2 separate regions of the Homo sapiens genome follow, and region 1 is reported to be linked to region 2. Evidence: microRNA targets listed by miRTarBase, many of them from high-throughput screens and not tested one by one. Region 2 holds a microRNA gene; the other region holds the end of a gene's coding sequence.
Evidence for each region. The annotated mature microRNA hsa-miR-6514-3p reads CUGCCUGUUCUUCCACUCCAG and lies in region 2 at 776-796, shown strand. An mRNA with a match to its seed (bases 2 to 7 or 8) in the 3' UTR can be bound and repressed. Matches are read on the target gene's strand: a 7mer-m8 pairs with bases 2 to 8, a 7mer-A1 pairs with bases 2 to 7 and ends in A, and an 8mer does both.

Region 1 (5,172 bases), not on the chromosome of region 2:
TCTGTTATCTGATACTAAAACATATATATATTTTTTGAGACGGAATCTTGCTCTTGATGCCCAGGCTGGAGTGCAATGACACGATCTCAGCTCACTGCAACCTCCACCTCTTGGGTTCAAGCGATTCTCCTGCCTCAGCCTCCCGAGTAGCTGAGATTGCAGGTGCCCGCCACCATGTCCAGCTAATTTTTCTATTTTTAGTAGAGATGGGGTTTCGCCATGTTGGCCAGGCTGGTCTTGTGATCCGCCTGCCTTGGCCCCCGAAAGTGCTGGGATTACAGGCGTGAGCCACCGCGCCTGACCTAAAACATATTATTATTATTATTATTATTTTTCTTTGAGATGGAGTTTCACTCTTTTTGCCCAGGCTGGAGTGCAATGGTGCGATCTCAGCTTATTGCAACCTCCGCCTCCTGGGTTCAAGCGATTCTCCTGCCTCAGCCTCCTGAGTAGCTGGGATTACAGACATGCACCACCACGTCCGGCTAATTTTGTATTTTTAGTAGAGATGGGGTTTCTCCATGTTGGTCAGGCTGGTCTGGAACTCCCGACCTCAGGTGATCCACCCACCTCGGCCTCCCAAAGTGCTGGGATTACAGGCATGAGCCACCGTGCCTGGCTTAACATATTCTTTAAGAAAGGTTTTCTGGACTGTTTGTTGAACTTGAGATGATCATTATTTCGTCCAAAGTCTTCTGTAGATAGACCTCTGTTTTGGGCACTAGGAGACGGAGTAGCTTAAAGAGCTCCTAATTCAGTGGGCTCTGAGTTAGAACAGGAGCACAGGAGTAGGGTCAAATTGATAACTCCAATGCAGAATGTATAAAAGTTGAGGGGATGCAAAGTGGCTAGACTTGGTTAGTTTTGATTAGTCAAGACTTTCTTGAGATTAGTTTCGAGCAGAATTTGGCATAGAGAAATGTATAATAAAGAACATTCTAATGTCTGGGCCTCTCACCCGGAAGCCACGTATCATATGGTTGCTCATTGTTCTAAATGAACAGTAAGGCTTTATTCTACTATCTCCTTATTACAGAAGGGAGTCAGATTGCAGTGGGGGAGAAAGCTGACTGACTGGAACCCAGGAAGGACAGTGCCATCCTGGGTGACCCTTCCCTCATCATGACAGAAGCCCTTCTCTGGAGCAAGGCAGTCACTAGGCAATCACTCAGAGGACGGAGTTCATAGGTGTCCATCCTTTTCTACCTGGCTAATTTCTATAGCCATGGCTGCAGGGAGCTCCCTGAGCCAGATGGATGGGCTAGAGGTCCCTGGGGGATTCCCCCACCCCAGGCTGCTGGGATAACTGTCAACAGTGTTCTTGTCTCTTCCAGGCTCCTCTGGCCCAGCCTGAGTCCCCCACCGCCTCAGCTGGAGATGAGCCCCGGTCCACTCCTGAGTCTGGAGACTCAGACAAGGAGTCAGTTGGCAGCAGTTCCACCAGCAACGAGGGCGGCCGGCGGAAGGAGAAGTCAAAGCGAGATCGGGAGAAGGACAAGAAGAGAGCAGATTCTGTGGCTAACAAACTGGGCAGCTTTGGCAAAACCTTGGGCAGCAAGCTCAAGAAGAACATGGGGGGCCTGATGCACAGCAAGGGTTCAAAGCCTGGAGGGGTGGGGACAGGGTTGGGAGGAAGCAGCGGCACTGAGACACTGGAGAAGAAGAAGAAAAACTCACTGAAGAGCTGGAAGGGTGGCAAGGAGGAGGCAGCTGGGGATGGGCCTGTGTCTGAGAAGCCCCCAGCTGAGTCTGTTGGTAACGGAGGGAGCAAGTATAGCCAGGAGGTGATGCAGAGCCTGAGCATTCTGAGGACTGCCATGCAAGGGGAGGGGAAGTTTATTTTTGTTGGAACCCTGAAGATGGGTCACCGTCACCAGTATCAGGAGGAAATGATCCAGCGCTACCTTTCTGATGCTGAGGAGAGATTCCTGGCAGAACAGAAGCAGAAGGAGGCAGAGAGGAAGATCATGAATGGAGGAATAGGGGGTGGCCCTCCTCCAGCCAAAAAGCCAGAGCCAGATGCTAGGGAAGAGCAGCCGACCGGTCCCCCAGCAGAGTCCAGGGCAATGGCATTTTCCACTGGCTACCCTGGGGACTTTACTATCCCTCGGCCGTCTGGGGGCGGAGTCCACTGCCAGGAACCCCGGAGGCAGTTGGCAGGGGGTCCATGTGTCGGGGGCCTACCACCATATGCCACCTTCCCCAGACAGTGCCCTCCTGGGCGACCCTACCCCCACCAGGACAGCATCCCTTCTCTGGAGCCAGGCAGCCACTCTAAGGATGGACTTCACAGGGGTGCCTTGTTACCACCCCCCTACCGAGTGGCTGATTCCTATAGCAATGGCTACAGAGAGCCCCCTGAGCCAGATGGATGGGCTGGAGGTCTCCGGGGCCTTCCCCCAACTCAGACCAAATGCAAACAACCGAACTGCAGCTTCTATGGACACCCTGAGACAAACAACTTCTGTTCCTGTTGTTACAGGGAAGAACTGAGGAGGAGGGAGCGGGAACCGGATGGGGAGCTCCTGGTGCACAGGTTCTGAACGGGTGGAACACTGAAGGGCAAGGAGGCTAAACAAAGTTAAGCTCAACTAATTGGCTCATCAAGAACACAGTCCCCATGTTGAGGGGGAAAATGCAGTAATGTTTGTGGGAGCCTGGCTGGAAACTTTTAAGTGTGTGCACACAGGAGTGCTGCCAGGCTGGCAAGAGCAGGTCGGGGCTGGATGGCACCTCAGGGGCTGTACTATTCCTCTGCAGAGCTTGACTTGATGAGGTTTGAGGTACAAGGGGAAAAGATGGCGATTCTGTCTTATAACCTCCTGGGTCCCATCCAGGGACCTAAGAGAAAGTAGCAGGGGAAGGTTTGGTGTGTGGGGGTGGGAGGTGGGCAGAAGTCTTGGGGAGGAATGGGCAAAGGAGGTTCTCAGTCAATAAAACCAAAGTTCTTTAGGTTGGGAAAAAGCACATGGTGGAGTGAGAAGTGTGGAGGGGAAGTGGGAAATTGGACACATTTGCTATTGATTTGAATTAAGCTAGAAATTAAGGTTGGATAAATTCTTCCCCTTGAAGGATCTGGAAAGACAAGGCAGTAATGTGTCCTCATGGGTGCCTGTTAGGAGGTGGGGGTAGTTTAAATCCGTTTGTTTAGATGGGAAAGGGAGGAACTTAAGAGGGAAATCCTTTTCCTCTTAAGGTTTATTTCCTTCCAAGCAGTCATATGTCATCTGTTACAGTTTGAGAAGAGATTGCTGATTACCCCCTGTCTTTTCCTCATCTAAGTCTTTAATTGTATTTGTTTAAAGGGAAGAGTGTGGTGAGAACAGCCGTCATGTGTGTTGCATTTTCTCCAGGTGAATTGGGGCAGAGCTGATCTATTTTTTAACCACAGCAATAACCATACGTTGGGGTTTGAGTGCACCTTGGGAGGGGTGGGAGGACAGACATTTTAGCCAGAGGCTGTTTCAAACAAAACCAAAAACCTAAGTAGAGCATTACAGGCCTCTGTGGCTGCTGCGTTTCTGTAGAAAGCAACTTATTTTATTGACTTTTTTTTTTAAGGAAAAGAAATAAAAAGACCCCAGCAAGCAAAAACATTTAAAAAATGATTTTTTTTCCTCCTACTTAAGTGGTTCTTTCTCCCTTTGCTCTACTTTTGGAGAATGAACTTAACATCCCGGCTTCTTTTGTTAAGCCATAGCTGACCTTAATCTGTGGTTAGTTTATTAAAATAATTAAAAATACTTTCTAAGAAGAGATATTTTTGATATTAGGACTGATGTTGAAACATATAGGGGCAATTTATAAAAAGGTAGTTAGAGAAATATATTTTAGTGAACTATAACCACAGAGCACAGATGACTCCCAATGAGCTGATCTGTCTTTAGGTTTCTCCCTTTCCCTGACCCTTCCCTGTTCTCTAGGGGCTGGGAGTGGGGATGCGGACACAGTAGGGGGAGCTCCTTCGCATTTTGCACAAAGCACAAGTCTGAACAGCCTATGCTCTGGCCAGAGCCATTTCTAAGAGCTTTAAACCGGAAGACCTATCCTGGGCCAATTTTCCTTTTTCTTTATATTTTTTTCCGGGAAAAAAAGTCAACTATGCAATTGTATACACTCCCGGGTGCATGTGAAGAAGGGGAATAAGTGTACTTATGTGTCCAGAGTATTAACTGGGGCTGTTTTTCTGTGTTTGGATTTCTCTTTTGAGGTATGTACTCATAACCCATCCCTTGGAACGTAATCCCCACATTTGATCTAAAGCACTTGAGCGTGCATGCATGTGCGTGCGTGCATATGTGTGTGTGTTTTCCTCCTCGGTAGCCAGTCAAGATTGTCCTTGTTGGAAATGCTCACGGTTTATAAAGGTTATTTTCTCCTCAACAAACTCAGAAGTCACCTATTTTCCAAATCTGATTTAATAATTTCCTATGGCTATTAATTCTTAGGGTTTTCTTTGAAAATAGATTTGTGTTAAGGAAGCAGTGAGATTCCAAAGGAAGGGATGTGTATATGTCTAGGCAGGTCTGGAACCTGGTATGAGATGAGCACTCCCCTAAGTTGCAAAATTTAAGGGTTACTATAAAACTCATTAATCAAGATACTATAAAAAATGCAGTATTTAAAAAAATTAATGCAAAAAATTTATGTTGGATAAAATAGCGAAATCTTACAGGATCTGACAGGACTGAGATTAGGAGGAGGGAAGTGAGGCTGAATTGAATAAGTATGGGGATGAATCCTTCTTATTTAAATTTTTGATACATTGTCCATCATAGACTTTTTACATTAATTGTGATTTTTTAAAAATGTTGCATTAAAATAGTATTTATCTTGGTTACTGGGTTTTTTGGCACTCCTTAAATTTTGTGCCCAAGGTGAGTGCTTTGCTCACCTCACCCTAGTTACGTCCCTGTTTCTGTGATTTGAACACTAGCGAGAACACCACTGTGTGCGCCTCCACCCCCATCACACACCAAACAACAGGTGGCTCAGACACCCTGAATTTGCACAGCTCACCTAGCTTTCCTAATTTAGGCCTTCATATCATAGAATGGTGGCCTGGACCAATAGGAATGAAAACAGACCAGGGGTTTTCCCAGAGAATAAAGCCGGAAAAGTTTTGATTCTCCACTGGACTGCTGTGTTTGGATTTGATCTGTTGTTAGATTC
Region 2 (3,130 bases):
TTCACCATGTTGCCCACCTAGGCCTCCCAAAGTGCTGCGGTTATAGGTGTGAGTTACTGTGCCTGGGCTCCTGAAATTTTAAAAGGCAAAACTTTTGGCTGCTTAAAAAAACCTAATAGTTGGCTGGGAGAGGTGGCTCACACCTGTAATCCCAGCACTTTGGGAGGCTGAGGCGGCCAGATCACGAGGTCAAGAGATCAAGACCATCCTGGACAACATGGTGAAATCTCGTCTCTACTAAAAATACAAAAATTAGCGGGGCTTGGCGTTCCACGCCTGTAGTCCCAACTACTCGGGAGGCTGAGGCAGGAGAATTGCTTGAACCTGGAAGGCGGAGGTTGCAGTGAGCCGAGATCACGCCACTGCACTCCAGCCTGGTGACAGAGCAAGACTCGGTCTCAAAAAAAAAAAAAAAGCAAACAGAAAAACACAAACCTGATAGTCTATAAAAAATTTGCCTGTGTATAAATTAACATAAAAAACTTTAAAGGTAAAATGGAAGTTCCTTTTCATATACTGTTCTGCAACTTAGTTTCTTTACTTACACCATGAACATCTTTCCCTACCACTGTAAAAACTATCTTGAGCTTCTTGACAGCTATTTAATATTCCTTATCTTTGAGAAGCCATTGGTAGAACATCTGGACTTTTACTAATGTCTCATTTGTATAAATAGTGCAAGGATGTATAAGAATGTACATATTTGTTGGCAAACTTGGGTGCTTTTATGGAGTGGACTTTCAGCTGGCATTTACGAGTCAGAGTTCTTACAGAGCTGCCTGTTCTTCCACTCCAGGTGCCTTCAGGACAACAACTGGGACTACACCAGATCTGCCCAGGCCTTCACTCATCTCAAGGTAAGGTCTGGAAATACAGTGGCAAAAAGACTAGGATCTCTGGGCCTCCAGGAGGTCAGGTTAGCTGAGTGGGGTTGCTGAGTGGCGAGGGTAGGCCTACCTCTACTGACCTTCATTTTTCTCCAGGCCAAGGGCGAGATCCCAGAAGTGGCATTCATGAAGTGATCGTAGTCATGCCTCAGAAGCAGTCCCCCCTGTAAATAGTCCTTGGATATTACCGTCTGGTTGTCGTCTGTCATCTCCTCCTGTCTGGCCCGAGGCCGCCCCGTGACTGTGACCGAGGGAGGGAGGGCTGCCTGATCCCTCTCCTCGCCTGCCTTCTGGAAGACTTCAGAAGATTGAGCCTCACTGGTGCCAGGAAGCCAAAGCTTACTTTGTAGAACTGACACTAAACTACCCGAAGGACTTAGGTGCTTTGTGTACTTAACCCCAGGACCTCCTTACTTTTTAATATAAAGAGTGATGTTGTATTTCGTGTTCTGCACTTTTTAATATAAAGAGTGATGTTGTATTTCGTGTTCTGCGTGCTGGATTGGTTGTCTCCTCCCAGCCCTGAGCGAGGGGGGCGGGCCCTCTAGCGGGGGCGCCCAGGGAGGGCGGAAGGCGGCTCTGCGGCAGGAAGCCCCACCCCGGAAGTCGGCTGGCCATGGCGGCGCCTTGGAGGCGATGGCCCACGGGGCTGCTAGCCGTGCTGCGGCCCCTGCTCACCTGCCGGCCCCTGCAAGGCACGACGCTGCAACGGGATGTGCTGCTCTTTGAGCATGATCGGGGCCGCTTCTTCACCATCCTCGGGCTGTTCTGCGCGGGCCAGGGCGTCTTCTGGGCTTCCATGGCTGTGGCAGCCGTGTCCCGGCCCCCGGTTCCGGTGCAGCCTCTGGATGCGGAGGTCCCAAATCGTGGCCCCTTCGACCTGCGCTCCGCGCTCTGGCGCTACGGTCTGGCCGTCGGCTGCGGCGCCATCGGTAAGACGTGGGCTGGCTTCCCACTGTGACAACGTGGGGTGGCGGGACACGACCTTCCCTATACAGGCAGGGAGAGTCAGGGACTCCCTATCCGAGAGTGGCGGGCGGGCTTTACCCCACAGAAATGTGAAACACTGGCCGGGCGCGGCGGCTCAAATGCTGGGAGGCCGGAGGCGGGCGGATCACTAGGTCAGGACATCCAGACCATCCTGGCTAACACCGTCAAACCCTGTGTCTACTAAAAATACAAAAAATTAGCTGGGCGTGGTAGCAAGCGCCTGTAGTCCCAGCTACTCGGGAGGCTGAGGCAGGAGAATCAATTGAACCTGGGAGGCGGAGGTTGCAGTGAGCCGAGATGACGCCACTGCACTCCAGCCTAAGCGACCGAGCGAGACTCCCCTCTCAAAAAAAAAAATTGGGAAACAGTGATGTCTCCGAGCGCCGTGCCCTGTCATAGCCTAGGCTGAGGGCTGCCCTTCACTCTGCGACCTTGAGCAAGGTCCTTAAAGCTCTCCATCTTCCCATTAAAATGGAAACGGACATCTATTAAGGTTGTTGGGAGGAATAACAAGATTACTGGGTATAACAGGAGCTCAGTACTGCACTCCAGCCTGGCCGGCAGAGTGAGACTCAGTCTCAAAAAAAAAAGCGCTCAGTAAATACTACTTTCATCCCACAAATTTCTTATTCAGAGGGCACTGGAAAGGTCGGTACTTAGATGCCCAGTGAAAACCCCTCACCCCAATCTCTGCCCTGCCTGCAGGAGCCCTCGTACTCGGTGCTGGTCTTCTCTTCTCTCTCCGGTCTGTGCGCTCAGTGGTGCTTCGAGCTGGAGGGCAGCAGGTGACCCTCACCACTCATGCCCCCTTTGGCTTGGGGGCCCATTTCACAGTTCCTTTGAAGCAGGTATCTTGCATGGCCCACCGGGGTGAAGTCCCTGCCATGCTACCTCTGAAAGTCAAAGGCCGACGCTTCTATTTCCTCTTGGACAAAACTGGACACTTCCCTAACACAAAACTCTTTGACAATACTGTGGGTGCCTACCGGAGCTTGTGAAGAAATGACCTCAAGTCACTCACCTCTCCAAGAGGAGGATAAAAACTGAACCTTGGGGAGCCAGGTGTGTTGGTTCACACCTGTTGTAATCCCAGCACTTTGGGAGGGTGAGGCAGGAGCACTGCTCGAGCCCAGGCTGGGCAACATAGCGAGACCTTGTCTCTATTTACAAAAAAAAAAACAAAAAAAAACGCCAATCTTAGAATGGAGTAACAACCAGGGTCACACAAGGAGGTCAAGATTCATTAACAACAA

Region 1: miRTarBase lists OTUD7B as a target of hsa-miR-6514-3p. The part of its 3' UTR that is shown has no 7-base or 8-base seed match.

Annotation. Positions count from the first base shown.
Region 1 is chr1:149,941,228-149,946,399 of GRCh38, reverse strand. OTUD7B (OTU deubiquitinase 7B) reads left to right here. Exons shown (of 12, transcript NM_020205.4): 12 at 1,335-5,172. The coding sequence ends at 2,543. Among named protein-coding and RNA genes, the nearest start is that of MTMR11, 6.9 kb to the right of the region's middle.
Region 2 is chr11:62,790,368-62,793,497 of GRCh38, reverse strand. It overlaps MIR6514 (microRNA 6514), which reads left to right and starts at 727; the gene lies at 727-796. TMEM223 (transmembrane protein 223) reads left to right here and starts at 1,492. Exons shown (of 2, transcript NM_001080501.3): 1 at 1,492-1,819; 2 at 2,583-3,130. The coding sequence starts at 1,504. The coding sequence ends at 2,875. It overlaps NXF1 (nuclear RNA export factor 1), which reads left to right. Exons shown (of 21, transcript NM_006362.5): 20 at 797-857; 21 at 984-1,368. The coding sequence ends at 1,022. TMEM179B (transmembrane protein 179B) reads right to left here. Exons shown (of 5, transcript NM_199337.3): 5 at 3,098-3,130. RefSeq lists a silencer at 1,363-1,512 and an enhancer at 1,583-2,092.